Homo sapiens: one gene and its partner. The protein of the gene in region 2 interacts with the protein of the main gene of each other region in a biochemical or structural test. Each region holds a gene or a part of one and is shown on either strand. Other genes may lie near its edges.

Region 1 (15,525 bases), on a different chromosome or scaffold from region 2:
TGTCTTCGATGCCTGTCAGAAGGTGGTCCAGGAACTGAAAGGGGCCCAGGGCCAAGTCAAGCCTCGCTGTGGGGCGCCTTCCCTACCAAGACCTCTGACTAGCCCCACTCCCTCCCGTAGCTGCAGCCCTGCTGGGTCCAGCCCTGTGGTTCCATGAGCAGCCAGGAGGTGGCGCCCACACTCCACTCATCGAACCCAGCGGCCCTGACTCTGGGTATCTCGAAGCCTTGCCTGTGTCCGGCTGAGCCCCCTTCTCTAATCCCACCTGGGACCTATGCCTGGGATAGGTTTCAAATGGAGGCAGAGATGGCATGATGCCCCCTCCTCAGGCTCCCAGCTGCTCACACCACACCTTCCTATGGCTAGACCCTGGCGGCCTCCTGGGGCAGAGGGAGCCCCTGGGCACTGGCACAGGGAGAAGGGGCTGATGGGGGGCAGAGACTTGAGGCCCAGCTGCTCCCTATCTCCCTGTTCCTCCTTCTGCAACCAAGGGCCCAGCCCGCACTCCAGTACCTGTGTGTGGATCTCTTCGTTGATGGAGCGCTTCGTCTCTTGCTTTTTCTTCACAGCCAACAGGTCTACCAGGGGCCGAATGGTCATGCCCTGGGGGGCAGGCAGGTGTCAGGCACTCCAGTTCTGCTACCCAGGCAGGGAGGCCACAGAGCCTCCCTCCCTCACCCCAGGCCCCCAAGGCTAGGATGCCCTCTCTGCTCTGCTCTCTCCCAGGACCCAAGGGTGTGAGAACTCTCCCACCTCCCAGCACTTATCTAAAGACAGGTCCTTAAGGCCTGCTTCTTCCTGGAGACACGGTCAGAGGTTTCACTGCCAAATGACCCCCACACTGGTCATCTGGCCTGGGCCAGGCAGCAGACAGCCTGGGTTCAGATGTGGACTGCACCACAGACTTGCTCTGCAACCCCATGGAAGTCAGGCCCCACACACAGGGAAAACTACCTCTGCACTGCCTCCCCACCAGGACTGTGAGGAGGACCGAGTAATAACAGCAGCAGCAGATGGAACTGCACACCTGCCATGTGACCAACACACGTGCTTGGAAGTGTTCTAGCATCAATCAGCTCTCCAATATCCGCAACACTAAGAGGGAGGTCCTTCCATTGTCTCTATTTAACAGATGCAGAAACTGAGGCTCAGAGAGGATAAGCAGCTTTCTAAGATCCCAGAGAAGCAGTAAAGCCATGATTTAAACCCAGGCAGGCTGGCTCTGGAGGGAGGCCCCCTCCCCAATGTTGCCTTCAATGAAAATGGGCTTGGAAAATCATTAGCACATACAACTGCAAAATCAAGGTAAAAAAAATTTTTTGAAGATGGAAGCAGGGCAAGAGGACAAAAGTGGCAGCCTCCTCCTCTTTTTTTTTTTTTTTTTTTTTTTGAGATGGAGTCTTGCTCTGTCACCCAGGCTGGAGTGCAGTGGTGCGATTTCAGCTCACTGCAACCTCCACCTCCCGGGTTCAAGTGATTCTCCTGCCTCAGCCTCCCAAGTAGCTGGGATTACAGGCGGCTGCCACCACGCCCAGCTAATTTTTGTATTTTTAGTAGAAACAGGGTTTCACCATGTTGGCCAGGCTGGTCTGGAACTCCTGACCTCAGGCGATCCGCCTGCCTCGGCCTCCCAAAGTGCTGGGATTACAGGCATGAGCCACCGCGCCCAGCCTCTCTCCTTTTTCTTAACTCGAGAGAGAGTCTCACTCTGTCACACAGGCTGGAGGAGTCACACAGGCTCAATCACAGCTCACAGCTGCCTCAATCTCCTGGGCTCAAGCTATCCTCCCACCTCAGCTTCTCAAGTACCTGGGACTTACAGGTGTGTACCACCATACCCACTAATTTTTTTTTTATTTTTTGTAGAGACAAGGTTGCCATGTTGCCTAGGCTGCTCTTGAACTACTGGGCTCAAGGGATCCTCCTGCCTCGGCCTCCCAAAGTCCTGGGATCATAGGCGTGAGCCACTGCACCAGGGTCCCCTCTCCCTTTAAAGGACAGAAAATAAGCCCAGCCCCAGGTTTCCCCTATTTTTTTTTCTCAAGAGAATGCAAAGATGTATCCCATCTAGGGCTTTTTGAGTATCAGTGCCCAGAAAAGACAGAAAGGATGGTAAAGAAATGGAGGCTCAGACAGAGTGTTTCTTATTTGCCCAAGGTCAGGCAAAGTCAGGTAAGGCAGAGCAATTTGCACCATCACAGGCTGGGCTTCCTTGGGGACCTTAGGCAGGAGAGTGGCTGTCAGCTAAGCCTGAGCCGTTTAAATGTACAGAAATCACTGAGCAGCAGGCTGGAAGGATTCTTGGGAATCATCTCGCCTGGTTCCCTCACTTTACAGATGGGAACTGAGACCCAGAGAAGAGTGGGGGTCTTTCTTAGGGTCAGAGGGACACCAACACAGAGCTAGGGCTGACTCCAGGCCTCCTGCTGCCTGGCTCATAGCCCTTTCCAGTTCCCCATGCTGTGATATTATTCCCATTTTACAGATGCAGAAACTGAGACCCTAAGATATGAAATCTCTTGCCTAAAGCCCTACAATGAGTTAGTAGCAAAGAGAGATCTTGGGCCTGTTGACTGTACCCACTTCTCTCTCTTTTTCTTTTTTTTTGAGATGGAATTTCACTCTTGTTACCCAGGCTGGAGTGCAATGGCGCAATCTCAGCTCACTGCAACCTCCACCTCCTGGGTTCAAGTGATTCTCCTGCCTCAGCCTCCCAAGTAGCTGGAATTACAGGTATGCATCACCATGCCCACTAATTTTGTATTTTTAGTAGAGACGGGGTTTCACCATGTTAGTCAGGCTGGTCTCAAACTCCTGACCTCAGGTGATCCACCCCCTCAGCCTCCCAAAGTGCTGGGATTACAGGCGTTGAGTCACCGTGCCCGGCCAGTACCCACTTCTCTTAATGCTCTATGAGTTCCAAATTAAGTTGGGCAGCATTCTGGTTCCTTTACATTCTGATCAGTCACTCTGCAATGACTCATCACAATTCTCACTTTACGATTGAAGAAACTGAGGCCCAGAAAGGGGGAGTGGCTCGCCCAAGGTCACACAGCAAGTTAGTGGTGGAGCTGGGACTAGAATCGCATTTCAAATCACACGCTTTCCTCTCTTTCCACGGGAACAGCCTGTGAGGGTCCCCAAGGCAAGGGCCTGCCCTGCCCTGGCCCAGCACCTGCACAAAGACGGTGAAGAAGATGACAGTGATGATGGCAGTGAGGAACAGGTCACACATGGGGAAGTGCTTCTTGTCCAGGAGGTAGCCCAGAGAGAAGGCGATGGCCCCTCGCAGGCCCCCATAGGCGATGATGAACTGGTCCTTGGGGGTCAGCTTCACGATACGGAACTTGTTGATGAACCAGGTCAGGCCCAGCACCCCTGCAGGGGAAGGCAGGGGGTGATGAGGGTCAGGTCGGGCTGTCCCCAGTCCCTCCTGGATTCTGCATCAGTGATTTCTCTGTGCATCCAGGAAGTCTCCATTACGAAGCCCACCCCGCTCACTCAATTCCTGGGTCCCTCAGCCCAGAGTGCTCTGAACTCCTCAATCCAAGAGCTGGGTGGATCCTTAAAGGACTTCCCCAACCTGGATGTGCTTTAGAGACATCATGGAGGCCTCCAGTGGCTGGAGGGCTGGGGGCAGGAAGAGGGAGAAAAGATCAAACAAGATGGGTCACAGGTCAATACTTGTTAAATGTGATGGGTGTGTGGGGGGTCATGATCCTATTCTCTCTACTTTTCTAAGTACTTGAAATTTTCCATAATAAAGCATAAAAAATGCAGAGGGCTGGGCCCAACCTCCACCCACAGAACCAGAATCCCTGGAGGATGAGGCTCAGGAATAAAGGGGATTTCAAAAGTGCACCAAATAAATGTGAGGTCCTGCCAGGCTTGGGGACATGGACCTAACCCTCAGAGAGGAAGTGAGAGATCCAGGGAGGAGGCGACTGAGGCACTGGGGTGAGGCATGTGGGGCACATGTGAGTGGAACCCATGCACCTGGGGCCTGGTCCCCACGTGTGCCCCGGCCTGCTGCATAGGTTTGGAGGACTGCACGTGGCTCTGCATGCGATTCGGCACATGCTCACGTCACCTGTCTTGAGACAGTGCAGAGAGCACTCAGCTCAGAGTCACAGACCTGGGTTCTGTGGGCCTCAGGCCCCTCATCAGGACAGCCACAGCCACAGGCTCAGAGTCTCAGGGCCCCCTCACTTTGACACAGCCTGACTCTGTCCCCAGAGACCACAGCCTTGCTGTGACACAGGCTTCTCCCTGCTGAAGGGCCCATCATGGAAATGGGAAGTCCCTCCTGTCTAGCTGTGCTGGGAGCAGGCAGGAGCCAACCAGGAAACCTCCACCACAAACTGCATCACACATATACCCCCAGCCCCTCCACACACACACACACACACCCAGGCCCTCTACACACACACACCCACACCCTCACAGCCCCTCCACACACACCCACACCCTCACAGCCCCTCCACACACACACACACACACCCAGCCCCTCTACACACACCCAACCCCTACACACACACCCAGCCCTTCCACATATACACCCAGCCCCTCCACACAACTATACACACACTGCACCACAGCCCAATCCCTCCACACAACACACACATATATACAAAGCCCTCCACACAACATACTACACACACACACCCCCAACCCCTCCACACACTACACACACACCATACACACATCCAGCCCCCCTACAATGCACTACACACACCACACACGCAATACGCATACACACACACACCACAGCCCAGCCCCTCCACACAATACTTATACACTGCACCACATGCACACACCACATAGCCTGGCCCTTCCACATAGTGCACTGCACACACCACACACACAGCACCACAGCCCACCACCCCCCACACACACCCCACACCACAACCCCCACCCCGCCCCAGCCCTGGCCCTCACCCAGCACGCGGGCGATGAGGCAGAAGAGCAGGGTGCTGATGACGAAGGTCCAGTTCCAGTGGTGGGAGCCGGCCACCGTGGAGACGCCGAGGAAGATGAAGATGAGGGTCTCGCTGACGCTGCTCCACATCTTCAGGAAGTATTTGATGGTGGTGTGGGACTTGTGGGAGATGTTGGCCTCCACATAGGGGCGCATCACCACTCCTGAGGCTATGAGCCTGGAGCAGGAAAGAGCGGGGTCAGGGCTCCGTGTCGAGCTGCACCTGCTCGAGCCCCTCCACTGCCAGGGGCAATGGGGCCACGACCAAGGTGCCCATGTCCCAAGCTCCTCTATGGGCCAGGGGCCCGCTGTGTGCTTTACACCCTCTTGCCACTCATCCTCACATCAACCCTATAGACACGGTGTATTCCTCCATTTTTTTTTTTTTTTTTTTTTTTGAGACGAGTCTCACTCTGTCACCCAGGCTGGAGAGCAGTGGCGCGATCTTGGCTCACTGCAACCTCCGCCTCCCGGGTTCAAGCAATTCTCTGCCTCAGCCTCCCGAGTGGCTGGGAATACAGGTGCCCGCCACCACGCCTGGCTAATTTTTTTGTATTTTTAGTAGAGACGGGGTTTCACCATCTTGGCCAGGCTGGTCTTGAACTCCTGACCTTGTAATCCACCCGCCTTGGCCTCCCAAAGTGCTGGGATTACAGGCGACGAGCGCATGCCCGGCCCTATTCCTCCATTTTTAAAATGAGTGATCTTGGCTGGGCACGGTGGCTCACGCCTGTAATCCCAGCACTTTGGGAGGCCGACAAAGGCGGATCACTTGAGGCCAGGTATTCGAGACCAGCTTGGCCAATGTAGTGAAATGCAGTCTCTTCTAAAAATACAAAAATTAGCCAGGTGTGGTGGTGGGCACCTGTAATCCCACCTAATTGAGAGGTTGAAGTGGGAGAATCTCGAACTCAGAGGCTGCAATGAGCTGAGATCGTGCCACTGCATTCCAGCCTGGGTGACAAGAGTGGGACCCCGTCTCAAATAAAAAAATGAGAGATCTGACTCTAAGAGAAATAGTCACCTCTCCCCTGTCACGCTGCCTGCAGGCAGCAAAGCCAAGACACACAAACCACAGTGTCCAACTCCAAAGCCTGCACCTTTGCCCCAAGGCCACACTGCCTCTTGACCCAATAGGAGTCAATGACACAGACCCATGGTCTCCTGGGTTCATTCCCCTCAAGCGTGGCATCTGCCATTACACAGGGGTCTCCACAGGGAGCTTTGTTCCAAGCAGCTGCTTGGAGCTCGGAGTCCTCCCAGCCCAGTGCTCACACCCGGGCTCTGCTCCTGGGAGCCAGGGGCTCTGAACCCCAGTTCTGCCTTGCTCGGCACTGGAACACCTTCACCCCTCACTGCCTCCCCACATCCCATTCTCCCCATTTCCAGACCCGGTGGAGACCTCAGGACCGCCAGGACTCAGGCCTGGTGAGCCTCCTACTGGGGCTGCTGAGGGGACTCCCTTTGAGACAATGAAGTAGCAGGGCTGTGGCTTTCCTCAACCTGAAGCTTAGTGGCTTCCAAGGCTCTGCTCTCCTATACCCTGGGCTTGCCTTCATGCAGGTCATTCTTGCTTCATCTGCTCATAGCCTGAAATGCCCTCTCCCGATTCCTGGACCCCAGGGGGCGCTGCAGAAGTGCTCCTCTTCTAGGAAGCCACTGATGCCCTTGGCCATTTAAATGGCTACCAAGCAGGTCTGGAGCCTGGAGTTCATGTCTCATCCCTGGAGCTCAAGGCTGGGCCCTGGGAGCTCCGTGAACCTACGAGCCTGGGGAATCCAAGCTGGCAGCCCCCGCCCCCACCCCGCCAAGCCCACTGCCTGCTGCACGCAGACTCACGCCATGATGCCTGACAGGTGGAAGAGCTCGGCTGACAAGTAGGCCATGTAGCTGTAGAGGAAGACGAAGAGCGGCTCGATGACCCGGATGTGGGAGGTAAATCGGGAGGTGAAGGCTGCGATGACCCCGTAGACCACGCCCACAAGCACCCCGCCCAGGGCCACCACGAAGAAGCTCAGGAAGCCGAGGAAGATGTCCACGATGCCCACGTGTTCGTAGTTGGCAAACTCCTCAAAGAGGTGATACAGGACCTGGGGAGGGTGTGCAGGCTGGTGGGTGGGAGGAGAGGGCCCTGGCCCCACGGTTCCCTGGGGTCCACCCAGGGCAATCCTGTCCCCTCCGTTAACCATGGCCACAAGAAGAGGCCACACGGTAGCAGAGAAACCCTAGTGCCAAGCAGGTGCTCAAAACCTCAGCCTGGGGCTGAGGGGCTTGCTCTGGGCCAGCCACGTGCCCCACTGGTGAAGGGTGGGCCCTGGGAAGCTCTGTGAAGACCCTGAAGCCAAACTGCCTGGACTGGAATCCTGGCTCTGCCACTCCTGAGTTGTGTACAGGAAGCAAATTCATCTCCCTGTGTTTCAGTTTTCCTGTCTATAAAATGAGGATAATAATACCAAATCTTAGGACTGCTGTGAGGACTAAATCAGCGAATCAAGTGCTCGGAGCCTTACCTGATGCAGTGTTAGCCACATCTGGTGCTATCAAGTCTGCCTCTCACTGCCTGACCTTGGGCACGTCATGCCCATCACTGGGTTTCAGTCCCTCCTTCAGCACAAAAAAGGGACGTTCACACAATGAACTAGAATGTCATTTCTTAACCTCTGGAGCTTTCTGAAAATACACATGTTCAGGCCATACTGGACTTGGACTCTCTGGGATAGGGCCAAGAAATCTCTATGTAACAAGCACCCCAGGGGTTGCAATGAACAGCCAAGTTCAGATGCTATGGAATTAGAGGCTAAGGCATCCCTGTCTCCTGGACTGGGAAATAGATGGTCATTGCAACACTACCATCAGATGTTTAAGTGGCACTTCATACACTGTAAAGCCCTTTGATAGTCTTTATCTGAGTCGACACTCAACAACCATGCGAGGCAGGTGGGTCAAGGATGCTCCTTTGCTAAACCGAGGCTCACAGTGGTAAAACAACACGCCAGGGGGCCCCCAGCCCAGGAGCAGAAGAACTGGGCCCAGAACTTATTCCCTGACAGCCATGGCTGAGGCCTCCCCAGCAGGCTCAGCTTTGAGGATCTGCCCCTCCTATTGCTAGGTCCCTGAGCTGCCTGGCCTACTCAAGTCTGTCCTAGACAGCTCTGCCAGGAAGGAGCAGGGAGTTTCCAGGCCTGGGGGAAGGGAGGGAAGGACGTGAGGATCCATGACAGGGAACCCTCCAAAGCCCCCAGGACCTGGAGCAGGAGGAATGGACCGTGAGGAGTGACCTGTCTAGGGCACAGACCTGAGACCAGGCAGCTCAGGGTCAGCCTCTGGCTTTACTCTCTGGGAAATGGGGCACTCACACCTATGCCAAGAGCTCCAGAAAGACCTGACTTGGGCCAGGCAGCAAGGGGAGATGCAGAGCACTGGCCAGGCCTGGTGCGGCCTGGCCCCAGCTGTCTGGGGGATAGGACAGGGCTCCAGCGGCAGACAGCCTCTTAGCAGGTGCGTACTCAGCCGTGGGCTAAACTCATTCCTGGCCTGAGGGGATTCATGGGTCCTCATGGTCTACCACATGGGCCCATGGAGTCGGCACAGAGGGGAAAGTCCTCCTTTCTGGCCTGGTGCTATTACCCCTGGAACTATAGAGAAACAGAGTAACACAGTGGTAAGCACTTGGGCTTTGGACTCAGACTACGGATTTGAACCTCAGCTATATCATATATCAGGCTTATGTAACCTCTCCGTTCCTCAGTTTCCTCATCGCAAAAAAACTGGAATATAACTGTGTCAACCTCATGGAGTTACTGTATAGATTAAATGAGGCAACATAGGCCAGACACAGTGGCTCACGCCTGTAATCTCAGCACTTTGGGAGGCCAAAGAGGGAGCATCGCTTGTGCCCGGGAGCTTGAGACCAGCCCAGGCAACATAATGAGACCCCATATCTACAAAATAAATAAATAAATAAATAAATAAATTAGCTGGGTGTGATGGCCAGCACCTGCAGTCCCAGCTACTTGGGAGGCTAAGAGGGGATGATCATTTGAGGAGTTTGAGGGTGCAGTGAGCTATGATTGTGCTACTGCACTCCTGAGTGACACTGTCTGTGTGACAGGAGACTCTGTCTCTAAATAAATAAATAAAAATGAGGCAATACACATTCAGACAGGAAGCACCCAATGAACACCAGCAATCACTACCACCGCTGCCACTGCCTTTGGGAGACATGACCATGGGTCCACAAATGGCTGGGTCTGTTACCTGCTTGATGCAACCATGCCCCAAGCTCCACAGCAGTGCTCACCTGAACCCCAACACCCAGATCCCACTGGAGAGGGCTTTATCTTTGGCACTCACTGGCTTCACAGACATTAGTGAGTATGACTCACTAATGTAAGTAATCCTGTAAGAAGCCTGGGAGGATGACAGGCTGAGTACTGCAATCCCTGTGTCACAGATGGGGAAACTCAGGCTCATGTGGTAACCCTGGGCAAGAGCTAGTGCTAGAGGAAGCCAGGATGGAGGCCTGCCTGCTCAGGTCAGGCTATTCTACCCAGCCCCATGAGGAGGCGTGGGAGGAACAGGAAGCTGAGGCTGCCAGCAGCTGAACACCACAGTCTGTCTCTACTCTGAGGTGCTGCTTCCTGAAGGCTGGGGCTGCAGAGGAGGGAGTCATGGCCTGGGAATGCACATGTGCCCTTGAGCTTTCCTGTGTGTGCAGCTGCTCTGAGCGGGACAGCTCAGGAGGGGGTGGGAGTGTTCTCACAACACAACGTGAGCATGCACATGCACACATCTGTTTCCCAAGGAAACCAGCTGGGAGGAAGGGCATGTGCAGGTGTATATGGTGCTACCACGTGCAGACCCTGGAGGAAAGCACTAATCCTCTGCCACTTTGCAGCTATCAAAGGTGAGGCTGGCTGGGCGCAGTGGCTCATGCCTGTAATCCCAGCACTTTGGGAGGCTGAGGTGGGCGGATCACCTGAGGTCAGGAGTTCGAGATTAGCCTGGCCAACATGGCGAAACCCAGTCTCTACTAAAAACACAAAAATTAGCTGGGCATGGTGACACACGCCTGTAATCCCAGCTACTTGGGAGGCTGAGGCAGGAGAATTGCTTGAACCTGGGAGGCGGAGGTTGCAGTGAGCTGAGCTTGCGTCACTGCACTCCTGTCTGGGAGACAGAGCAAGACTCCATCTCAAAAAAAAAAAAAAAAAAAAAAGGTGAGGGCCACAGAGGTATAGCATTTGCTTAAGGTCACACAGCAAGCAAGTGGCCAACTTCTTTTACTTATCACCTTCTAGATGTTTTGGAGACAAGGCCCCTTTCCATAATCTCCGCCCAAAAACTGTGCACAAACCGAATTCTAACTTAAGATATAGCCAACATGAGAGCTGAAAGGCCCCTCACAGATGATATGGTCTGTGAAGAGGGAACTGAGGCACAGAGAGTGTAAGTAATTTGCCCAAGCTCACATCAAAATGCAAGAGAAGGGCCAGGCTTGTTGGCTTAGGTCTGTAATCTCAGCACTTTGGGAGGCCGAGGCAGGAGGATGGTTTGAGGCCAAGAGTTCAAGACCAGCCTGGGCAACATGGTCAAACCCCATCTCCACAAAAAATTTAAAAAATTAGCCGGGTGTGGTGGTGCATGCCTGTAGTCCTAGCCACTCGGAAGGCTGAGGCAGGAGGATCTCAGGCCCAGGTATTTGAGGCTGCAGTGAGTTATGACCGTACCAGTTCACCAGCCTAGAAGACAGGGCAAGACCCTGTCTCTTAAAAAACAAAAAGCAAGTCAAGTCAAGGAGGGAGCATATAACCTAGCAAAACCAAGAGCTTAGGCCCTGGAGTCAGTCAGACCTGGTTCAATCACAAACTGGTTCATACTCCAACAGGTTATTTAACTTCTTTGGGCCTGTGTCTCCCCTGGAAAATGAGAATAATAAGCACCTCTTAAGGCAGCCATGAGGACTTAAATGAGATAATCCATGCCGAAGGGCTCAGCATGGTGCCTGGCATACGGGAAGCGGGAATGTGCCTCAGCTGTTTTTATTACTGTTATTAGCGGGTGGATGAGGGATTCACTGGTGGGCCTGGATTTGGGTTTGTACCGTTTGGACATGGGCATGGCCCCTGGCCTCCTCACCACAGTGACGGCGTCATTGAGCAAGGACTCCCCAAAAACAAGGATGTGCAGCAGCTCATTGATGTGAATTTCCTCAAAGACAGCCAGAACCGCCACGGGGTCCACGGCCGAGATGATGCTGCCGAAGAGCAGGTTGTCCAGGAGGCCGATGTTGTTGATCTGCTCACCGCCCACCAGGCACACGGCGTACATGAGGCCGCCCAGGAAGAAGGCGTTCCACAGCGTGCCCACCACGGCAAAGATCAGGATGGTGCCCAGGTTTTCTGTGAACTGCCGCAGTGGCAGGAAGTAGCCCGCATCCAGGATGATGGGCGGCAGCAGGAAGAGGAAGAAGACGTCGGACTGCAGGAAGGGGGGTGTCTCGCCTACACCCTTGATCAGGCCCCCCACCAGCAGCCCCACCACGATCAGCAGGCAGCTCTCCGGGACGATGCTTGAGATAGTGGGGATCACATGGAAACCTGCGGAGGGCGAGAGAACGGGAGGCCATGGGCTTTCGGAGGAGCCAGGAGAATAGAAGGTTGGGGATGGGCCGGGGATGAGGAGCGCAGTTGGTGAGAGGTGCACAGGCTGGGTCTCAGAGGGCTGCTCTGTTAACTCTCTGAGCCTCCGCTTCCTCGCCTGTAAAATGGAAGGGACAATGCTAGCTTCACAGGTTTGCCATCATAAACCAAGTGACAGTGTTTTTAAAGCACTTTTTTCAAAGGATATATACATGCTATCTCTGTCACTGTCATAAAATGTTAGAAAGCAGCAGTTCTATATGCTTCCAGAAGGCAGAAATTATAAATTGATTACTGACGTGCCAAGTACCTACGGGCATCACCTACGCCTGAACCCAAGGCATTATTCCAGGCACAAGTTCAGGGAGGCAGATCTGAGCTCAACCTGAGGAATAACAATCTAACAATTCTGTCTGAGGGAAGATGGTAGTTCCCTATCACGGAGCTGTTTAAGCAGAAGGCAGACAACCAGCTGGTGGGGAGTGGCATAGGAGACAGAAGAAAGCACAGAAGAATCTAAGAATACCAGCGTGGGAAGGAACTTGGGGATAATAAGGCCTGGGGTCTGCAAACCTGCAAAACAGTAGGCTTTCCTACTGAGTCCAGGCAGCTGCTCAAGACACGGCTCAAGGATGTCAGTGGCAACCAGCTTTGGCAGGTGAGATAAAATCTATTTGCTATCCCGCTTCTAGCTCAATGCCACCCACTTTAAAGATGGGGCAACTAAGGCTCAGAAAAGGGAAGGGACTTGCCCAAAGTCACACAGCAAGTGGGGAGCAGAACTAGAATAGAACACAGGTCTGATGCCCCAGTTCCCATCAAACTGCACAGTTCTGTAATTCAAGCTCTCCTATCCTTCCCTCCCATCAAGGCCTCCTCACACACCCCTCTGCCTGGGACCCACCAGCCATCTCCCCAGGCCGTGTCCTGGCCAGCAACAGGCCGCTCTGCTGTAGTCCACCTTAAGGCTTCAAACCCAGAGCTGAGGAGTAGCAAAAATCCCCGTTGAGAGGGCCTCTCTCAATATCAGGTATGGCCAGAGAACCCTGAGCTCCTGTGAGTGGTTTACTTGTTTGTTTTGTTTTGGGGTGGGAAAGTAGGTGGAAAAAAATCTGAGCATCTAGTTGTATGTTGGGTACTATGCTCCCAGGGTTGGCATAGCCAAGAGGGTTTGTCCCTTTGCTCAAGAGGAAAGCTCTCTCTGGCCTGGCATGGTGGCTCATGCCTGTATCCCAGCATTTTAGGAGGCTGAGGTGGGAGGAACACTTGAGGCCAATAATTTGACACCAGCTTGTACAACATAGGAGACCTCATCTCCACTTAAAAAAAATAGCTGGGCATGGTATGCACCTGTAGTCTCAGCTAGTTAGGAGGGCCGAGGCAGGAAGATCACTTGAGCCCAGCCTCAAAAAAAAAAAAGAAAGAAGAAAGCAAAGCTCTCTCTCCTCCCCTTCCCTATCTTGCAAGCTCTGTGCAGGCAGATCCCATAACTGCTTATCATTATACACCCAGGGCTAGGACACAAGAAGTGCTCAACAAATATCAGCTGACTTGAAAATACACAGGGCTGGGACATCACCCAAGATTTCCGATAACCTGCATGCCTGGCCAGGCCTCTGCTCTCATTACTTACTCTTGAGATCCTTGGGACAGAGGAGGAACTTCCCTCTCCATGCCCAAAGCCCTTCCTACTCTCAGGTAGGAATCTGGGCAGTGCTAGTACGGTGACAAGTCAAAGTTCACACTGCTGGCTGGGCACGGTAGCTCACGCCTGTAATCCCAGCACTTTGGGAGGCCGAGGTGGGTGGATCACCTGAGGTCAGGAATTCAAGACCAGCCTGACCAATATGGTGAAACCCTGTCTCTACTAAAAATATAAAAATTGGCCAGGCGTGGTGGTGGGTGCTTGTATTCCCAGCTACTTGGGAGGCTGAGACAGGAGAATTGCTTGAACACAGGAGGTAGAAGTTGCAGTGAGCCGAGATCACGCCACTGAGCTCCAGCCAAGATCACTCCACTGCACTCCAGCCTGGGCAACAGAGCAAGACTCCATCTTGAAAAAAAAAAGTTCACACACTGAACACTATCCAGGCCCAGAATCCTGGCACAGTGCCAAGCACCCTGAAGACACTCAAAACACATTGGGAAAAAAAGATGTCTCCATCCTAGGCCAAGAGGACCTCGAAGGCACCATGTGCATTCTCCTGATTTCAAAATAGACATGACCAAAAGTCACTTTTTGTTCATCTACTTCCCACATCAATAAAAGGGAAAATAATTCCAAAATCACCCCTTTTGCTGAAAAGTCCCCCAGTCTTTGTACTGTCCACCAGTCAACATCCAGTGTGTAGCTGGCTGGTCCACTGGGAAGGGCTAGTCATGTTGGACCCAAGTCTCTCTTGCTGTAGAGGATAAAGCCCACATTTTCAGCACTGCCTCTGTCATCTGCTCTTGCCTCATGTCCCATTCTCCCCACTGTCAACTCTTAGGTTTCAGCCTTGCCAAATTCCTTGCAATTGCCCCATATGAGCCACATCCTCTTTTGCCTGCCAATCTTCACCTAGTCTAGTTCCTCTCTCTAGAAATCATTCCTCTACCTCTACCCCCACCATATGTGGCTGACACCATATCCTCTGCCTGCCTCCTCCTTCAGGAAGCATTCCCTGACCACCACCTGTCTGCTCAGGTTAGGGCAGGAATCTTCTGGTGCTTCCCTCTCTCATAACCTTCAATCCACAGTCATCTCCCAGGTTCCTCTCTCTCTTCCTGGCACCCACCGAGATCAGTCAGACAACCCAGGCAGAAGCAGCTGAGACAAGACAATGGCATCAGACCCCAAAGACCTGCAGTGTGCTGGAGGGGAGACAGGCACAGCGCAGCGGAGATAAGCAGGATGAAGATTTAGGGGAGCAGAGCTCCTACAGGCAGGGGCCAGAAAGCACCTTCCCAAGGCCGGAAGTCCAGCTCCAGCCAGCTGCATGCTGACCCCCCTCCACAGCCTCCCTGCCCCTGTCCTGGCGTTAGCACCAAGAGCTGCCTTAAGAGAAGGCAGAGTCTAAAGAGATAGTCCAGGGTAGGCAGATGATGGCTTCCACCTCCACCTAAGGGGTCGGGCTCTAAAAATGCCTCCTACCCTCACTCTGTGCCATCAACCCAATCCACAGAGCTTTCCTGGCCCCATAAATCGCCAGACAGTGCCTGGGAGACCCAGAGAAGAGTTGGCCACAGCTCCTGCCTGGGGAGGGGGCAGGCATGTGAAACAAGCCAAGAACAGCAACATGAAGACGGCTCCTCAGGTCTGAGGGCGTCCCATGAGCCAGAACTGTGCTGGGAGCCTGGCACGCACCATCTCATTCAGTCCTCACCACAGCCCTTGGGATAGGTATTGCCTCCATTTTGCAGAAGACAAAGCTGAGGCTCAGCAAGGTTATGCCACTCCCCTAGTGTCTAAGGGAGGACCTCTATTCTAGCTTAGGTGTCTCAAACCGGTAGCAGAGAGCGCTAATTAATTCTTTAGTCAAAGCTCGGTATTTTCTCTGAGCCAGGCCATATGGGACACTGGGAACATTGAGGTGACTCAGACTCTGAACCTCCGTGAGCAGCTGATGGGGAGGGCCATGCTATTCCAGCCCTTGGAGCTTCTATGACCAGGTGAACAGAGAGCTGGCATTCCTATTGAACACAAGAAAAACGAGCTCTGAGAGGAGGCTGCATGCACTCAGCCAGGCCAACCAGGACTGGGTCCCGGGCCTCCTGACTACAGCACAGCGACCTCCTTCTCCTTCAGCCAGCTCCAGAGTACCTGGGGCTGGAGCCATGTTCCTGGAGCTGGTTTCCCTGGCTTTCCTGTTTTGTCTCTGGCGCTCAGTGAGCTGAAGGAGCTCTAGGCCCTGATGGGCTCTCTGG
Region 2 (16,516 bases):
TTGGCCTCTACAGCCCCCCTTTGAGGACTGCTGTCTCCGGCCTGGCCACCTGCCCTCCTCCTGGAGGCACCTGGGCCCTGAGACCTCCACTAACCTGCCAGGGAGCAGTGCCAAGAACGGAAGGCTTGCTCCTGACAGAGTGCCGGTCTGCAAAGGTCACACTGCTGGGACGACAAAGAGCCTTTTTGTCCTAGTGCTCCGTGGCCACCACCACCAGCGGAAATCACCCACTCGACCTTCTGGTTTTATAAATTAATAATTAAGCTGGAGCAGGCAACAGGAAGGCTGGCAGGACCAGGGGTGCCCAGGCCCTCACCCTGTACAGTCACACCAGCATGGACAAAAGAACAAAAGAGGCCCTGAGTTTTCTTCCCAGAACTGTGAGCCCTTCTGAGCTGAAAACACCTCATTCCCTCAGCTCGAGATAACAGATCCTAAAGTGCTTTGCAAAGGGAAGAGCATCTTATCAACACCCAGGTTATTCTGTTTGTCTTACTGGGCCGTATGGCATGTCTGAGAGTTGATTAAATTTCCACGATACATTCTGGAGACCATTAACTCACAAAAAAATATCCTGCCAGGATGGCAGTAGGGGAGGCAAGAAAGAAAGATGCAGCGGGGATCTAATTACCACCAATCTGCGGAGCGAGGACGTCTTGGAGAGGACTGCCAGTGGCTTGCACAGAGAAAACACAAATTCTTTTGAAACAGACCTGAGCCACCCAGTGAGACCCTAGGAAACAGAGGGGGCGGCACCCTCCTGCCTCTTCCTCCCAGCCGTGGTCCCCACTCCCCTCCCACTGCCCACTACTGAGCTTGTTCTCCCTGGGGGCAACCCACCTAGATTCCAGAACTTTCCACATCACCCAGAACCAATCCTATCTGCCTCAAGGTTCAGTTCTCCCCTTGCCGACTTGGTAAACAATGTGTGGAACTCTACTGACGAGGTTGTGGGGTAACAGCATGGCCTCCCCCAGATCACACAGATGTGCCGACTCTCAGAGTCTCAGTCCAGAGCATGTGGGGTTCTCGGCATGCGGGAGAGGCGGTTTCTCCCGGCACTGCACTTGGCAAATCCCACTAGAAGGCCTGGTTTTGAGTCTGGATTCCCTACCCAGCAACTAAGTGATCTTGGGCAGTCATTTCCTCTGTCCAAACCTCAGTTTGCCCATCTATAAACTGGCAGCAATAGTCCCACCCTCAAAGGGCTTTTCGGCAGATCAGATGATTGACAAGTGCTCAAGAAAGAGCAGCTGTCACCTCATTCACAGCTGGCTGCGTTTTTTAAGGAGCGGAACTGGTGGCTCAAAGAAGGACACAGCCTGGATGAGACATCTGAGCGAAGTGGCACAGGACGGCTCCAGCACCGAGCTCAGTGCACATGGAACGCCATCCTCCAGGGTCCCGCTCTGTGGCTGCGACAGATGGTGAGATGATGGGGCCCAGGTGAACAGAATGAAAAATACCAGCATGGGCTAGAGCAGGCAGGTGCCTTTGGTTGATCCCCAGCCCTGTGGGAAGCTTCCACAGCGGGCATTCTCCTGCAAGTTTCCCCTGTGAGCCCCCAGAGAGGAGGGCAGGGGAGGCCTGGAAGCCCCCATCCAGTCAAGGCAGAAAGGGTTCCAGAGGCTGGGGGGGTCCCATGATCTGGACCACTTTGTGGATGACTCCAGGCCAGGGTCTCCCCCCGCCCCAGAGCTCAGCATACAGGACTGGTCCTTCCCCCTGGTTTCACGGACACATTCATTCCTCCTCTGCTGAGGAGCCACTGTCTGAGGAGGGAGCCTGAGGTGGGAGGATCACTTGAGCCTTGGAGTTAGAGGCTGCAGTGAACTGTGATTGCACCACTATGCTCCAGCCTGGGCAACAGAGCAGGGCCATCTCAAAAACAAATTAATTTTAAACAATCAATAAAAGTAATTGTTTGAATCATTTTCTTACTGAGGCATGATTTCCATACAATGGAAAACACTTCACTGTTCAGAGACCCTAACAAGGGCAGAGGGCCCTCCCCAGAGGCACTCAGACAATTCCACATCCTATTTCATGGGGTTCATGGACTCCCTGAAGATGCCAGGGGAAAAGCCACAACCTAGCCCAGAGGAAGAGAAAAGGCACGGGGGACTGGCTGGTTGGCTGTTCAGCTTACCAAGCTTTGGCGGACGACAGAACAGTGTGGAGCTGGCTGGTCCACCCTGGCCCATCAGACCCTTCCTCCCGCTATGCTACAGTTGTTGGGGTGCTCCCCTGTCCCCCTGGAACCCCTGAGCTTCTGGAGGGCAGGGACCGCATCTGGTCCACCCTGGTAGCAGAATATGGCAATTGGTGAATGAGCCGAGGCCACCGTCTGAGGCCACTTAAAGACTTTAGAACCAAGAAGTATTACCCAGGGGCGAGAACGCAGTGGAGAAACCAGCGCCACCCCCACCAGCCACGCTTGGCTACGCCAGTCCTCCCTGCCATCTCTAGCTCCTTCTCCAAATGAGATTAGACCAGGAATGGAATCCGACTCTCTTTTTTTCTTTGGAGACAGTCTCGCACTGTCACCCAAGCTGGAGTGCAGTGGCACCAACTCCTGGGCTCAGGCGAACCCCCTGCCTTGGCCTCCCAAAGTGCTGGGATTACAAGCATGAGCCACCGCACCAGCCTGCGACTCTACTTCTCATTATGATGCCTGTGGCCTTGGGCAGGCACCTCCTCTCTTGAGCCTCAATGTCTGCATCTGTAAAATGGGAAACCAACCGTGTTCCTGGGAGGATTCCATCAGCTACTGCGGATACGCTGCCTGGCTCAGCTGAACGTGTGGCAGATGCCACGCGCCCGAGAAACATTAGCTCTTACCATCATGAGGTCTGAACTCTAGGTCTGGAGATTTTTTTTTTTTTTTTCCTTTTCCTTCTGGCAGCTTCTTGGCATCAACATAGACATGCCTGAAGAGCTGTTTTGGAGCCTGAAGGAAAAAACAGACCCTCCACCTTTCCCAGAATCCTCTGTCTTATTATTTCCTTTCCAACTCCAGGAGCAGACACGGATGGGGGGGACAGGAAGTGGGGCCAGCTCAAGGTGGTGAAGGACAACTGACTCAGGTGAATAATTCCCAAGAAGCCCTTCTCTCCGTCAGGTCCCACTTTGTACCTCGGTCCACACACCAGACACCACTTGGCTGCTGTCACCACGGGTGCGTGGGGAAGGTGAGCTCAATCACACCCCCGGGACGCCTTCGCTCGGGCTTTTCATATGAATCTTAACAATCTAGATGTGAGCCTTCTTGGCTCAGAAAAGATTCCTGGGAATACTCGTTTCCGGTTTAAATCAATCAATGAGACTCTAACAGGCAGGGAGAAGGAAGGTGGGCACGCAGACCTGATGATGCCCTGTGTGGCAAGCTGCTGCTCAGGCATATTTTTGGTGGGGCTGGGGAGATGCTGGGAGGGTTGGCAGCCGAGGACAGCTGGTGAGGGTGGCACTGGGTTTTCCAGTGGCTGCCTGTTCCTGAACAATACACCTTGAGTTTTAAAGTCCCCAGGGACTGTGCCCCTTTAACGTGAGCCTCTTATGCTCTCACTGAACCACCAAGTGCATACAAAGGTGAACAAGACACGTTCTTTCTGCTCTAGGGAGCTCCAAGTTTCGAAGGGGTGGCAGGTGACAGAGTTGACAAGTATAACATGGTGTGATGCCTGCTATTGCGGGCTCCAGGAGCGCTGAGGATGGGTGTTTAACCCTTAAAGGTCGGATGGAGAGATGGCTTTCTGGATGGGAGCAGCAGGTAAGCCAACCCCTGAACAATAATGAGCATTCGTTTCATAAAGAGACAGGGTTAACGCTGTGCGCGGTGGCTCACACCTGTAATCCCAGCACTTTGGGAGGCAGAGGCAGGCGGATCACTTAAGGTCAGGAGTTTCAGACCAGCCTGGCCGACATGGTGAAACCCTGTCTCTACTAAAAATACAAAAATTAGCCGAGCATGGTGGCGGGCACCTGTAATCCCAGCTACTCACGAGGCTGAGGCAGGAGAATTGCTTGAACCCAGGAGGCAGAGGTTTCAGTGAGCTGAGATCGCGCCACTGCACTCCAGCTTGGGCAACAAGAGTGAAAATTCATCTCAAAAAAAAAAAAAAAGAGAGAGAGACAAGGTTAAGAGGAAAGGTTTGAGTTTGTTTTTTCTTGTTTTTGTTTTTTGTGAGATGGAGTTCACTCTGTCGCCCAGGCTGGAGTACAGTGGCATGCTCTCAGCTCACCGCAACCTCCGCCACCCAGGTTCAAGCGATTCTCCGACCTCAGCCTCCCGAGTAGCTGGGATTACAGGCGTCTGCCACCGCGCACAGCTAATTTTTGTAGTTTTAGTAGAGACAGGGTTTCACTATCTTGGCCAGGCTGGTCTTGAACTCCTGACCTCATGATCTACCTGCCTTGGCCTCCCAAAGTGCTGGGATTATAGGCGTGAGCCACCACGCCCGGCCTAGACCTTACCCTGGGTGGAGACAGAGAAAGGCTCCCGTACGTAAACACCTGATTGTACACATCAAATGAAAACAGTGCTCCAGGCAGAGGAACAGCTTTTGTGCAAAGGCCTGAAGGTGAGAAAAAATACGGGAGTCTTTTCCTATCCCTTCTTGGTTCCTAGAAATTCAAGTGGCAGCTACACACAGTGAAAGCATGCTGGCAGTAAGAAAGCAGTCTTGGGGCCAGGCATGGTGGCTCATGCCTGTAACTCCAGCGCTTTCAAGAGGCTGAAGTGGGAGGATCACTTTGAGGCCAGGAATTTGAGACTAGTCTGATCAACATGGCAAGACCCCTGTCTCTACAGAAAAATTTAAAATTAGCTGGTGTGGTGGCGCACACCTGCAGTCATAGCTACTGGGAAGGCTGAGGTGGGAGGATCGCTGGAGCCCAGGAGTTCGAGGTTGCAGTGAGCTTGATCATGCCCCTTGCACTCCAGCCTGGGTGAGAGAGCAAGACCCTGCCTCAAAAACTAAAAATTAAAAAAAACTGTAAAAAAAGAAAGTAGGCTTGGGGATCCCATGATCTCCAACTCCTCCACTTAGCAGCTGTGGGACTGCAGGCAAGCTGGTTTACCTCTCTAAGCCTCAGTTTCCTCACCTGTAAAATGGCCCTAACACTGCCTTCCTGGGGGATCATTACTATAAAGAGTGTTATGCAGAGAGCACCAGCGTGGAGCCTGATGCTCAGCAGGTGCTTGGGGAATTATGTTCATTATCACCAGCCTCAGCCTGACCTTCTGGTCCTTTCTGGATGGTGTTCTCAGAAAGGGACCAAGCTGATTCCTCCCCAGAAAGTCAGGGGTCATCTTGGTCCTCAGGGAGGCGGGGGAGTCAGCAGCCCTGTGGGCTCAGTCTGTCCTCTGGCCACCTTACCCTGAGGCTTTTCTCCCTTTTTCTCAGGGAAGATTCCCAAGGGAATGGCCTTGGAGGAAGGGCCCTGCCTGACCCACTGGGTCTCTGGGAGCTGACGTTCCCATGCCAAGCCGATCGTCTCGCACGTAACCTTATCAAATCCACACAATGACTTCAGGATCCAGGTGGGGGTACTGAGGCTCAGAGAAGTAAGATGACTTGCCCAAGGTCATGTAGCTCAGAGAGGTGGGACCAAGACTCAACTCTCAGCTATGGCTCGGAGCGACCAGGACATACAAGAGTGTTTAAAGCATGGTCAATAACAAACCATGTACATGTGTTTGGTCTAACTACTTCATGTATATTAACTCAATCCTTCCCAACAACTTCAAGGGAGGTACTATGACTATGCCCATTTTATAGTAGATAAAACTGAGGCTCAGAGAGCATAAGTGACTTGCCCAAGGTACCTGGCAAGGCCCCTGAAGCCAGGCTCCTGCCACAGCCTGAGCCCTGACGACAGCTGTGTCCTCATCTCATGCATTCTTATTTACTGTTGCTGGCTTGTCCCTGCCACAGGGCCTCTGCATTCGACGTCCCCTCGGCCCGAGATGCCCTTTCCACTGATTTGCACACCCCTGGCTCATTCTTACTTGGATTTCTGTTCCATTATCACCTCCTCAGGGAGGACCTCCGGATCCACCCTAAAGCTCCATTCTCATGCCACCCTGCTATGCCTCGTTCACAGTTTAACACCTGTCGGGCGTTTTGTTTACTGTGTGTCCCCCTCCAGGAACAGCAGCCTCTCCGAGTCATCTCTAAATCCCCAGCCCCTGGTCTATAAATATTTGCTAAGTGGGCAAAAGTGACCGAATTACGCAGTCCCTTTCGGAGGACTGGGGGCAACTTTCCACCTACCTAAAGTTCCACCTGCCTACTCTAGTCTAACCTCAGAACCTCCTCTCCGACCCTCTCCATCTCCCTTGGGTTATGAAGTCTGAGCTCTGGGCAGCAAGAAGGGAAGCCGCTGCAGCTACATCTAGGAAGGTTACAGAGCAGGAACACAGCATCTGTCATCCCAGTGGGAGGCTGGACCCAGGAAACTGACAAGACTCCCAGCATGCTCTGCAGCCCCTCCTCCCTGTCAAACCCACAACCAGGTGGAATTCCCGAGTGCCCCGTGGGCTGCCGGAGAGCCCACCCTTCCAACGGGGATCCCAGCCACAGAGAATGCCCATCGACACCCATCCAGATTCAAAGCAGTGGGAGGCGAGGAGAGGGCACATGAGAAATAATAAAAGCAGAGGAGACCCAAGCAAGTAAGAGCTAGAGGAATCCCTCCTTTCTCTCTCATATTAGTCTTCGGATTGAAGTGCATAAAACTTTTTGAGTAAGTAAAATATCCAACATAGTTCAAAATGAACATATAAAAACGTTTACGGAGAAAAAGCTCACTCTCCCTTCATCCCTTCCACTCCCCCCGCAACCCCCACCAAGCATCCATTCGTACTTTCTGGTGGATTCTTCCAGTCTGCAAATATAGCAATTACAAATGTATACTCTTATTTTCCCCTCTTTTTACATTTTCTATTTCTTTTTACTTTGCGGCTCCAGCTCAAAGGATCCTTTTTTAAAAAACAGAAAAAAGGGTACCATATTATATATGCTGAGCCACACCTTTTACTTCTTTAGTTGGATATTTCTATATCTCTACACACACAGAGATACAGATATAGACGTATAAGTGCGTGCATACACACACCAGTTATTAATGGTTTTCTGCAATTTTCATCCAGTTCTCCTGGAAAGGGGTATTTAGATTGGGGGTCAAGAGGGGTTGCTTTTCAGCTGACACACAAACAGCTGGGCCACCCTCTCTTGGTGATCAATACTGGACGCTGGTTCTCTGCACTTGAAGCAGGTGCCAGGAGCTAGCTCTTTCCCAAAATATCTGCAGCTCCCATTTCCTGAGCGTCTACCAGGTACTAGGAGAACTCTTACAACAGAGAAGGAAAGCTGAGAATCAGAGAGGTAAAGTGACTAGCCCAAGGTCACACAGCCAGGAAGTGCAGCTGGCAGGGTTCACAGCCGGTCTGTCGCTCGCCAAAGCCGGTTTGCCCACACACCTGGCCCCCGCGGTCTCCAGTCCACACCCTGGTCCACAGCCAGAGGCAGAACTGGCCATGCCGAGTTCAGGACCCAGGGCCAAGTCCCCAGCCCGGCTGAACTCGGGCAGAGAAGCGCTTTCTCCGCCATTTCCCTGCGGGCAGCTCGGCCAGGCCTCCCAGGGCTCCCCGCCTCCGGGCCGATGCGGGGCGCGCAGCCTTTGCTGGTCCCGGGAGACTCAGCGAACTCAGGGGAGGACGCTGGGCTCCGGGCAAAGTGCTCTGCGGCCGCTGCCTCGCTAAGTCTCCCAGCCACCCGCGGGGATGAGGCTGCCTGAACCCATTTTACAGATGCGAGGACGAAAGCAGGCGCCGGGCGCCGGCTCTCCCGACTAAGGTCACCCGGCCGGGGAGCGTCGGAGACCTGTTCCCACCCAGGTCCGCCGACTTCAAAACTTTCCGCTCTCGCGCTCACGAATGCAAACGACTCTCAGGTGTGGGGCGCGCGCGCCAGCGGGGGTGCCTGAGGGACTTGCCCGCCCGGCCTGAGGCACCTGCCCTGCGCTTGGGAAGCCTGGGCCCCGCTCCCTCCCCGGTCCGCAGTCCCCCGGCCAGGGAGTTCCCGGGCCAGTCCGAAGCTGAGCGGCTGCGGCACTGAGCATCGCCGCGGAGCTCCTCGCCGCAGCCCGCGAGGTGGCCAGCGGGGACCCATTTGAAAGAGGAGGAGACTGAGGCGCAGAGAGGGCCCGCCACTGGCCCAAGGTCACACAGCGCGGCGGCGGGCCGGGGTCCCCAACAGTGGCCGTTCGGAGGTCCCGCCCCGGTCCCCGCGCCGCCCCCCGCGGGTACTCACAGCCGGTCTTGCCCTCGAGCTCCCGCACCTCCTCAGACGCGGAGTGGGCAGCGCCCATGGTGCCCGCGGCGGGGGCCCCGGGGCGCGCGTCCCTCTCAGGCCCCGCACTGGCTTCGGCTGCGCAGCGGCGGGACTGGCCTCGGGTCCGGCCTCGGGTCGGGACGCCGGCGAAGGCTCGGAGCCGCGGGTTCCGCGTGGGGCCGGAGCGGGGCCTCATATAACGGCGGAGGGCGGCGCGCCGCGGTCCTAGCGCACGCCGGTTTCGCGCACTGCGCGGCTAGGGGAGCGCCCCGCCCCGCCCCGGCCCGGAAACCGCCGGGAAGGGGACCCCGGAGCCCACCGCTCTGGAGTCCCCGTTCGTGCAGCAGTGCTCACGTACCTCGTCCCTTCCGCACACCTGCTGGATCTGGAAGGAAGCAGGTGTGAGCAAATTTGGGGGCGTGGGTAGGAGGGGTGGGACCCCTGGGAGGTGCTATGCCCACTCCCAACCCATCCCACCTTACATCCTCCAGATCTTAGGAGGGAAACTCCACTGAGATAGTCAAGGAAGTCAGCGAGCATGAAATAGCTCTATGGAGAACAACAGTAATAATAATCCTATTTGAAAATGCACCATGCGCTTTGGTTTTTTCCAGGAAAGCCCCAGCACCTTCTGAGGTGAACACACCCACGTGGCGGCCCGTGTGGGCCCTGCACAGCCCGGTGGCTGAGAGGCACCTCAAACTGCAGGAGCGGGCTGGGCGCATGGCTCACGCCTGTAATCCCAGCACTTTGGGAGGCCAAGGCGGGCGGATCACTTGAGCTCATGAGTTCGAGACCAGCCTGGCCAACATGGTGAAACCCCGTCTCTACTAAAAACACAAAAATTAGCCAGGCGCGGTGGCACATGCCTGTAATCCCAGCTACTCCGGAGGCTGAGGCAGGAGAATCACTTGCACCTGGGAGGCAGAGGTTGCAGTGAGCTGAGATCTTGCCACTGCACTCCAGCCTGGGCGACAGAGCAAGACTCTGTCTCAAAAAACAAACAAACAAAAAAACAACTGCAGAAGTGGGCCCAGGAGGCTGCATTTGGGACAAACTGCTGGAGAGAAGGCAATGCCGGTGGTCCCCATGCCCATTAGGGAAGTTCTGGGTTAAGATGGCTTGAGGGGTTGGCTCTCCATCCAGTTGGGGTGACTGGGGCCGATGCTGTTGCCTGTGTAATGTGATTCCTCCTCCTTAAAATAAGGATAAGTTAATGAGATGTCCACCAGAGGGCCTGGCGTGGACACAGCACATGGCCACAGAGGCTGGTGGGCGCTATGGAATCTTGTCCCCTGGAGAGGCACACAGCCAGGGCAGAACATCAAGGTCAAGGCTCTCCTGAAGGCTCTGCAGTGCTTAGTGACACCACCATCAATGACCGTCAGGTATCAGGTCTGTTCTGAACGTTAGTCTCGATGATAAATGTTGGGGAGGAAGGGGGACAGGGTAGGGGGCAGGAGTTTTTCGGTGCCCACAGAGGGGACTCGGGTGGACCTACCTCCATCAGTTTCACAGGCTGCTGGGAAGGGGGCTGCTGAGAACTGCTGTTCATTCCTGCAGACTACAGGCTCAAGCCAAGGGTCACAGCCCTTTCCAGGGGCAGGAGGTGACTTTCAGAGCCCGAGGTAGAGGGTGGGAGTTGGTCCTAAAACCTCCTAGAGCATCAGAATCAGCCCCTTCCTGGTTGCAAATCCAGCTTTTGGCCAGGTGCAGTGGCTCATGTCTGTAATCTCACCACTTTGGGAGGCTGAGACAGGAGGATTGAGCCCAGGAGTTTGAGACCAGCCTGGGCAACATAGCAAGACCCCAGCTCTACCAGCAATTAAAACTTTTTAAAAATGAGCTGGGCACAATGGTGTGCGTCTGAAGTCCCAGCTACTTGGGAGGATGAGGCAGAAGGATCGCTTGAGCTCAGGAGTTAGAGGCTGCAGTGAGCTCTGATTGCACCACTGCACTCCAGCCCAGGCAACAGAACGAGACCCTGTCTCTAAAATGGAAAATCCAGCTTCCTCTTCCACTGCCTGTCTGCACTCGTAGAGCTAAGGCAGCACCTGCAATCTGCATTTTAAAGCACTCTCCAGAGGGCAGTGCAAGACCTGATCAAGGTGGAAAGATGTTGGCTGTGGGTCATCAGCTGATCTGAGCCGGCAGGACAGCTGACCTAGGGACTGCATTTTGGTTTAAAGGATTCTGGAAACAGGCAGGCCTCTGGGATCAGGAAAGGATCCCCAATACCCCTGGGAGTTCTGAGCCGCTGAGCCAGCCCATTACGTACAGCTGCTGGGAGCAATTTTATTCCAACTTAAAATGTCAGTTCCTGGAATTTTATTATATTAAACTAGTCAAGGATTAAATGATGGAACTGTCTGATGTGGGGGATAGGAAGTGGCATTCTCTGGACATCAGCCCCTCCTGCTTGGCACAGTTGCTCTGGTGGGGACAAAAGCCCTGGGACAAGGAGAAGGGCACATGGCTTCACATTGTCCCTTGGTGATCTCAAGGAAGCCCCTGGTATCTAGTATGAAGGGAGTCTGTCCTACCCGATCACCTGTCTACCCTGACCCACTGACCGCTGTTAGCTACTAGACAAGCACTTGTACTTGTTCCTTTTGCCTGAAACTCTCTTGCACTCCCGCTTCCTCTTCAGACCTCAGTGGAAACTCACATCCTCAGGGAGGCCTTCTCAGAGTCCTCATCCCCTCTCCTGGGTCCACAGCCAAACAAGCCACCACCACCAGTCAGCAGGGAGCTGGGAGGCGGGAAGTCTTGCTGAGGATGACAGAGGAGGATTTATTCCTAATAGCAGGGCTTGGAGAAGTAATCAGGAGATCCTTGGAGCAGCACGAAGGCAGAAAAAACCAAGGCACAATTTATGCATTCGTTCAATCATTTATTCATTGCACATTTATTGAGCACCTACTATGTTCAGGGCTCTTGCTAGGTCCTGGAGCCACAGCCAGGAATAAGATGCCACCTTCGCTCCTGAAGAACTCCTGGTGGGGTGAGGAGACAGACACACGGGCAGTGACAAAGCAGATGGGTAAACAAGGGCTGACGTGATGGAGCCCACAGAGAGATGGAATGTTCAAACCAGAATGGGCCCCTGGAGAGACTCTGTCATCCCTAAAGCTGAGCTTCAGGAAGTCCAGGACTGTCCCCAACTGTGGTCCCGAAGGGATACAGCAAAGCCAAATTCTTGGTGGACAGATGTCTCTGTGGGGGCCCCTGCAGTGGCACCCACCATCTGCCCGGGCTCTGCCCTCCTCTGGCAATGATGTGCACACCGCAAGGCGCCCTCCACGCAAAGCCAGCTGCTGCCTGTTCCGGGACGTCATGGCTTTCATTCAAACCTACCAATGGCTCTGCAGGCGTCAACAAAGCAAGAAGCAAGAATGAGGTCTGCAGCTTTGCATGGGGTCTGGCCAGGGCTCATTGGATTTTTTGTCTAGAGCCCTGGAAGAGGGGCACCCTGCTGGGGGGCAAGCTTTATCCCCCCCAATAACACAGCATGACTTTTGGAGGACTGGGAAACACTTTAGTCACCAGGCAACTGCGTCTTTTCTCCCAGAGGACCTCCTCCTGGAGGAGCTGATTAAAAGTGGTGACCGCAATTCATATAGCTGGTCCCTGTCAAGCCGCAAAGAGCAGCTGAGCCCAGAGATGGCCAGGATGGTCTTCATTTGGCTCTCCCACCTTCCTGTCATGGAGGGCTATGAAACCATACTTGGGCAAGTTAACCTCTCTCATCCTCAGTTTCCCCATCTGCAAAGTGGCAATTACATTGTGAGGGTTAAATGCAGATTCATATATGTAAGGTGATTCATACATGTGAGGTGATTGTGAAGGTTAAATGCAGATTCATATATGTAAGGTGATTCATACATGTAAGGTGATTGTGAGGGTTAAATGCAGATTCATATATGTAAGGTGATTCATACATGTAAGGTGATTGTGAAGGTTAAATACAGATTCATATATGTAAGGTGATTCATACATGTAAGGTGATTGTGAGGGTTAAATGCAGATTCATATATGTAAGGTGATTCATACATGTAAGGTGATTGTGAGGGTTAAATGCAGATTCATATATGTAAGGTGATTCATACATGTAAGGTGATTGTGAAGGTTAAATGCAGATTCATATATGTCAGGTGATTCATACATGTAAGGTGATTGTGAGGGTTAAATGCAGATTCATATATGTAAGGTGATTCACACATGTAAGGTGATTGTGAAGGTTAAATGCAGATTCATATATGTAAGGTGATCATACATGTAAGGTGACTGTGAAGGTTAAATGCAGATTCATATATGTAACATTGTGAGGGTTAAATGCAGATTCATATATGTCAGGTGATTCATACATGTAAGGTGATTGTGAGGGTTAAATGCAGATTCATATATGTAAGGTGATTCATACATGTAAGGTGATTGTGACGGTTAAATACAGATTCATATATGTAAGGTGATTCATACATGTAAGGTGATTGTGAGGGTTAAATGCAGATTCATATATGTAAGGTGATTCATACATGTAAGGTGATTGTGAGGGTTAAATGCAGATTCATATATGTAAGGTGATTCATACATGTAAGGTGATTGTGAAGGTTAAATGCAGATTCATATATGTCAGGTGATTCATACATGTAAGGTGATTGTGAGGGTTAAATGCAGATTCATATATGTAAGGTGATTCATACATGTAAGGTGATTGTGAAGGTTAAATGCAGATTCATATATGTAAGGTGATCATACATGTAAGGTGACTGTGAAGGTTAAATGCAGATTCATATATGTAACATTGTGAGGGTTAAATGCAGATTCATATATGTAAGGTGATTCATACATGTAAGGTGATTGTGAGGGTTAAATGCAGATTCATATATGTAACATTGTAAGGGTTAAATGCAGATTCATATAGAGAAGGTGCTTAAAACTGCCTGACACCGTAAGTGCTAGCCAGTGGTGAGCTGGTAAACAAGTTCTCTGAAAAGGGCAGGAGGGGCAGAAGTCCTAATCTGTAGCAGTTGCCAATTTCTGTGTGTAAATACTCGTGCCATAGTCAATTTCAAGTTACTGATAATTTAACAATAGGCTTGCAAAATCCCTGAATTTTGTTTTTTTAGATATGGGGTCTCACTATGTTGCTCAGGCTAGCGTCGAACTCCTGGGCTCAGAGGATCCTCCTGCCTCAGCTTTCCAGGTAGCTGCAAATACAGGCATGCGCCACCATGCCCAGCTTAAAATCCCTGAATATTTAACCATTTGCTCTTGCAAGCCAGTCAAGACCAGGAAACTACTACCCAGTTGACTGTCATATGTTCGTTTATTTGTTCATGCATTCACTATTGAGTGCCAGGAGTTTGGACACTACAGTGAAGGAGACAGTCCCTGACCTCAGGGATCCCAAAGTCTGCAAGGAAAGAGATGTGAACAGAACATCATGGTATGCTAGCCGGTACCAGTCACTGCAGGGGCCCGGAGGAGAGGCACCCAGCACATCCGCATTTTATTGATAGAAAAACCAAGATGTTCCCAAAGGATTGTAAACCAGAATCAGAGCATAGACTCGAAGGTGTCTGAATAGCAGTTTCTGTAATTCACCTGCCCCTTCTAATGGTTTAGCTTGGGGTAACTCCCAAGGCATGGTAATGTTCTAGGAGTAACACGACATTTGTCTTAGCATTTGGGCCACTGACCAAGAGATTTATGGGGACTCCAAGTACCATTGAGCCCGCCTTTGCAAAAATTATAACAGAAAGTTATGACACCGAGAGTGATCTGATCTCACCAACCCTCATCTTGCCTCTAACTTTCAAAATGCCCTTGGTCATTCCTGGACTTGAGCCGAGCTAACTTTGGGAGAAATTTAATTTATAGTTTAAATGAGAATAGCCCTTCCCCAAAACTAAGCCGCCTTCATAAAACTAATGAAAGGCTACCAGGTGGCCGGCCACAGTGGCTTAAGCTTGTAATCCCAGCACTTTGAGAGGCTGGGGTGGGAGGATCGTTTGAGCCAGGAGTTCAAGACTAGCCTGGGCAACTTAGTGAGACCCTGCCTCTACAAAAAAAAAAAAAAAAAAAAATTAGCAGTGCATGATGTCATTTGCCTTTGGTCCCAGCTACTCAGGAGGCTGAAGTGGGAGGATCACTTGAGCCCAGGAGTTTTAAGCTGCAGTGAGCCACGATCACACCACTGCATTCCTGCCTGGGGGACAGAGTAAGAACCTGTTTCTTAAAAAAAAATGAAAAGAAAAGAAAGGCCACCAGGTTAGGAGGATGAGAGGGGCCTAAATTTCGCTAAGACGCAGGCATAGTTAAATGACAACCAGCCATTATTCCAGAGGATACAAGATTTGCAACTGTCCCAATTCACTATTGTGGAACCTAAGATTGGCCTTTTGAGATGTCTTTACCTGCATTTCTGATGACCGGATGGCCCCACCCAGACCTTCAACTCTTGGCTCAGCCGGTCCTGGGGAGCCCGCCCAGAAGTGGACTTGGTGCACAAGGACCAATTTCCACAACCCTGTGATTGCATCCCCAACCAATCAGCAGCCCCCATTCCCCAGCCCCCTGCCCACCAAAGTATCCTTTAAAAACCCTAGCCTCCAAATTTTCAGATTGATTTGATTTGAGACAGGAGTGGCCAACCTTGTGTCAATTAAGCTCTTTCTTTATTGCAATGCCGTCGTCTCAGTGAATTGGTTTTGTCTGTGCAGTGGGCAGGAGGAACTCATCAGGTGATTACATCATCTTGCTTGGCCTCTTAGCGAAGACCGCACCTAAACCACATCAAACAAGCAATGTGTGGTGAAGCTCTCATAAAGTAGGTCCAGGGAGAGGGAGACCGCACAGGTGGCCTGCGTCAGTGATTTGGCTCTGACACAGACGCTTTTTCTCATAAGATCATTCAGGCTCCTTAGGCTGGTTTCATATGTCGTGGTCTCTTGGTTTTCGTGTCAATGGGATCAGAGATTCACCCGCAATTTGCATTTTGAAATTAAAGTTATCGTTTTGATTTTCTTTTGAACAATCTTTTTTCCCGAGGCACCCTGATCTTCCCCCATAGCCGTGGGCATGCTATAGGAGATCGATTCAGATCTGAGTTGAATCCTGGCTCTGCCCACTCCCTGGCTGTGTACCATTGGGTTGGTTATATTGCAACTCCAAACCTCAATGTCTTCATCGGTATAATAGGCCCCACAATCCCATCTTTGAAGAGTCGGAACAAGGGTGAAATGGCTGGCATAGAGCACACCCTTCCCAACTGTCTGTTCCTTTTTTTTTGGCAGGGGGGTGGTAGTTGGACATCAAGGACTTTATAGCCAGCCTGACTCTCCTGTCTCTTCTAGCCTCCCGTCTCTCCCGGTCCCGTGACTCCCAGTGAGACACATCAATGAAACTCAGACTCGAATCTCTGTCCAGCTCCCAGTTCTTACAGAATCAGATTTGGTCTTGGGAGAATGATCGCAGCAAGGGGGCTTTAGAATAGTTCCTTCTCTTCATTCTCTGAGAGCTTTAAACTCAACCTTGAGTTAGAAAATCACCCCTGGCCCCTTCCTGGGTGGCAGAATCACTGCTGTCACCAGCATCATTGCTTCAGCCCATGGCTGGAGCTGAGTGGCCCAGACCTCAGAGGGACGCTGCCCTACAGGAGGGCAGGCTGGCTGCCTAAAAATAGGAGGAGACTGGGTTTTTGGGGAGGGCAGCTTAAGCTTGTTTTTCTATTATTTATATAATTATAAATAGTGACCAATTACCGGAACTTGCAGGGGGCAGATGGAATGTTGTCCCTGGATGGGCTTCAAACTCTGCATTGTTGTCCAAGAAACAAAGTTACCAACCAGAAAGAGGTGGCAAGGGCCCCAAATCTGTTTTCACTTCACCATCACTTTACATCGAGCCTGGTAGGGGAGGCTGGGCAGGGGCCGGGGGGTGGGAGCTGTTGAAGAAGACAGGAATAATCAGCATTTGGAAGACTCTGCTAGGACCTCTTCTCAGGTAGAAATGCAACAGCCCTGGGTAGAGATGCTTTTATTTATTCATCATTTGTGATTTGGAGAGAGGCATCCTACACCATTAGAGAGGACTGTGTGGTAGGCAGAATGTGGCCCCCAAAGACGCCCACGTCCTAATCCCTGGAATGGGTGAATATGTTAGGTTACATGGCAAGA

The links.
Region 1: the proteins of TESC (region 2) and SLC9A1 form a complex in vitro, tested with the Homo sapiens proteins (4 studies listed by BioGRID and IntAct, with this or other methods).

What each region holds. Positions count from the first base shown.
Region 1 is NC_000001.11:27,102,710-27,118,234, forward strand, and holds part of SLC9A1 (sodium/hydrogen exchanger 1), read right to left. Parts: intron 11,578-15,525; coding exon 11,117-11,577; intron 7,069-11,116; coding exon 6,818-7,068; intron 5,157-6,817; coding exon 4,939-5,156; intron 3,379-4,938; coding exon 3,176-3,378; intron 604-3,175; coding exon 514-603; intron 35-513; coding exon 1-34. UniProt on the Homo sapiens protein: Electroneutral Na(+) /H(+) antiporter that extrudes Na(+) in exchange for external protons driven by the inward sodium ion chemical gradient, protecting cells from acidification that occurs from metabolism.
Region 2 is NC_000012.12:117,090,910-117,107,425, forward strand, and holds the start of TESC (calcineurin B homologous protein 3), read right to left. Parts: upstream 8,508-16,516; 5' UTR 8,374-8,507; coding exon 8,316-8,373; intron 2,780-8,315; exon of another isoform or gene 2,765-2,779; coding exon of another isoform or gene 2,743-2,764; intron 1-2,742. UniProt on the Homo sapiens protein: Functions as an integral cofactor in cell pH regulation by controlling plasma membrane-type Na(+)/H(+) exchange activity. Promotes the maturation, transport, cell surface stability and exchange activity of SLC9A1/NHE1 at the plasma membrane.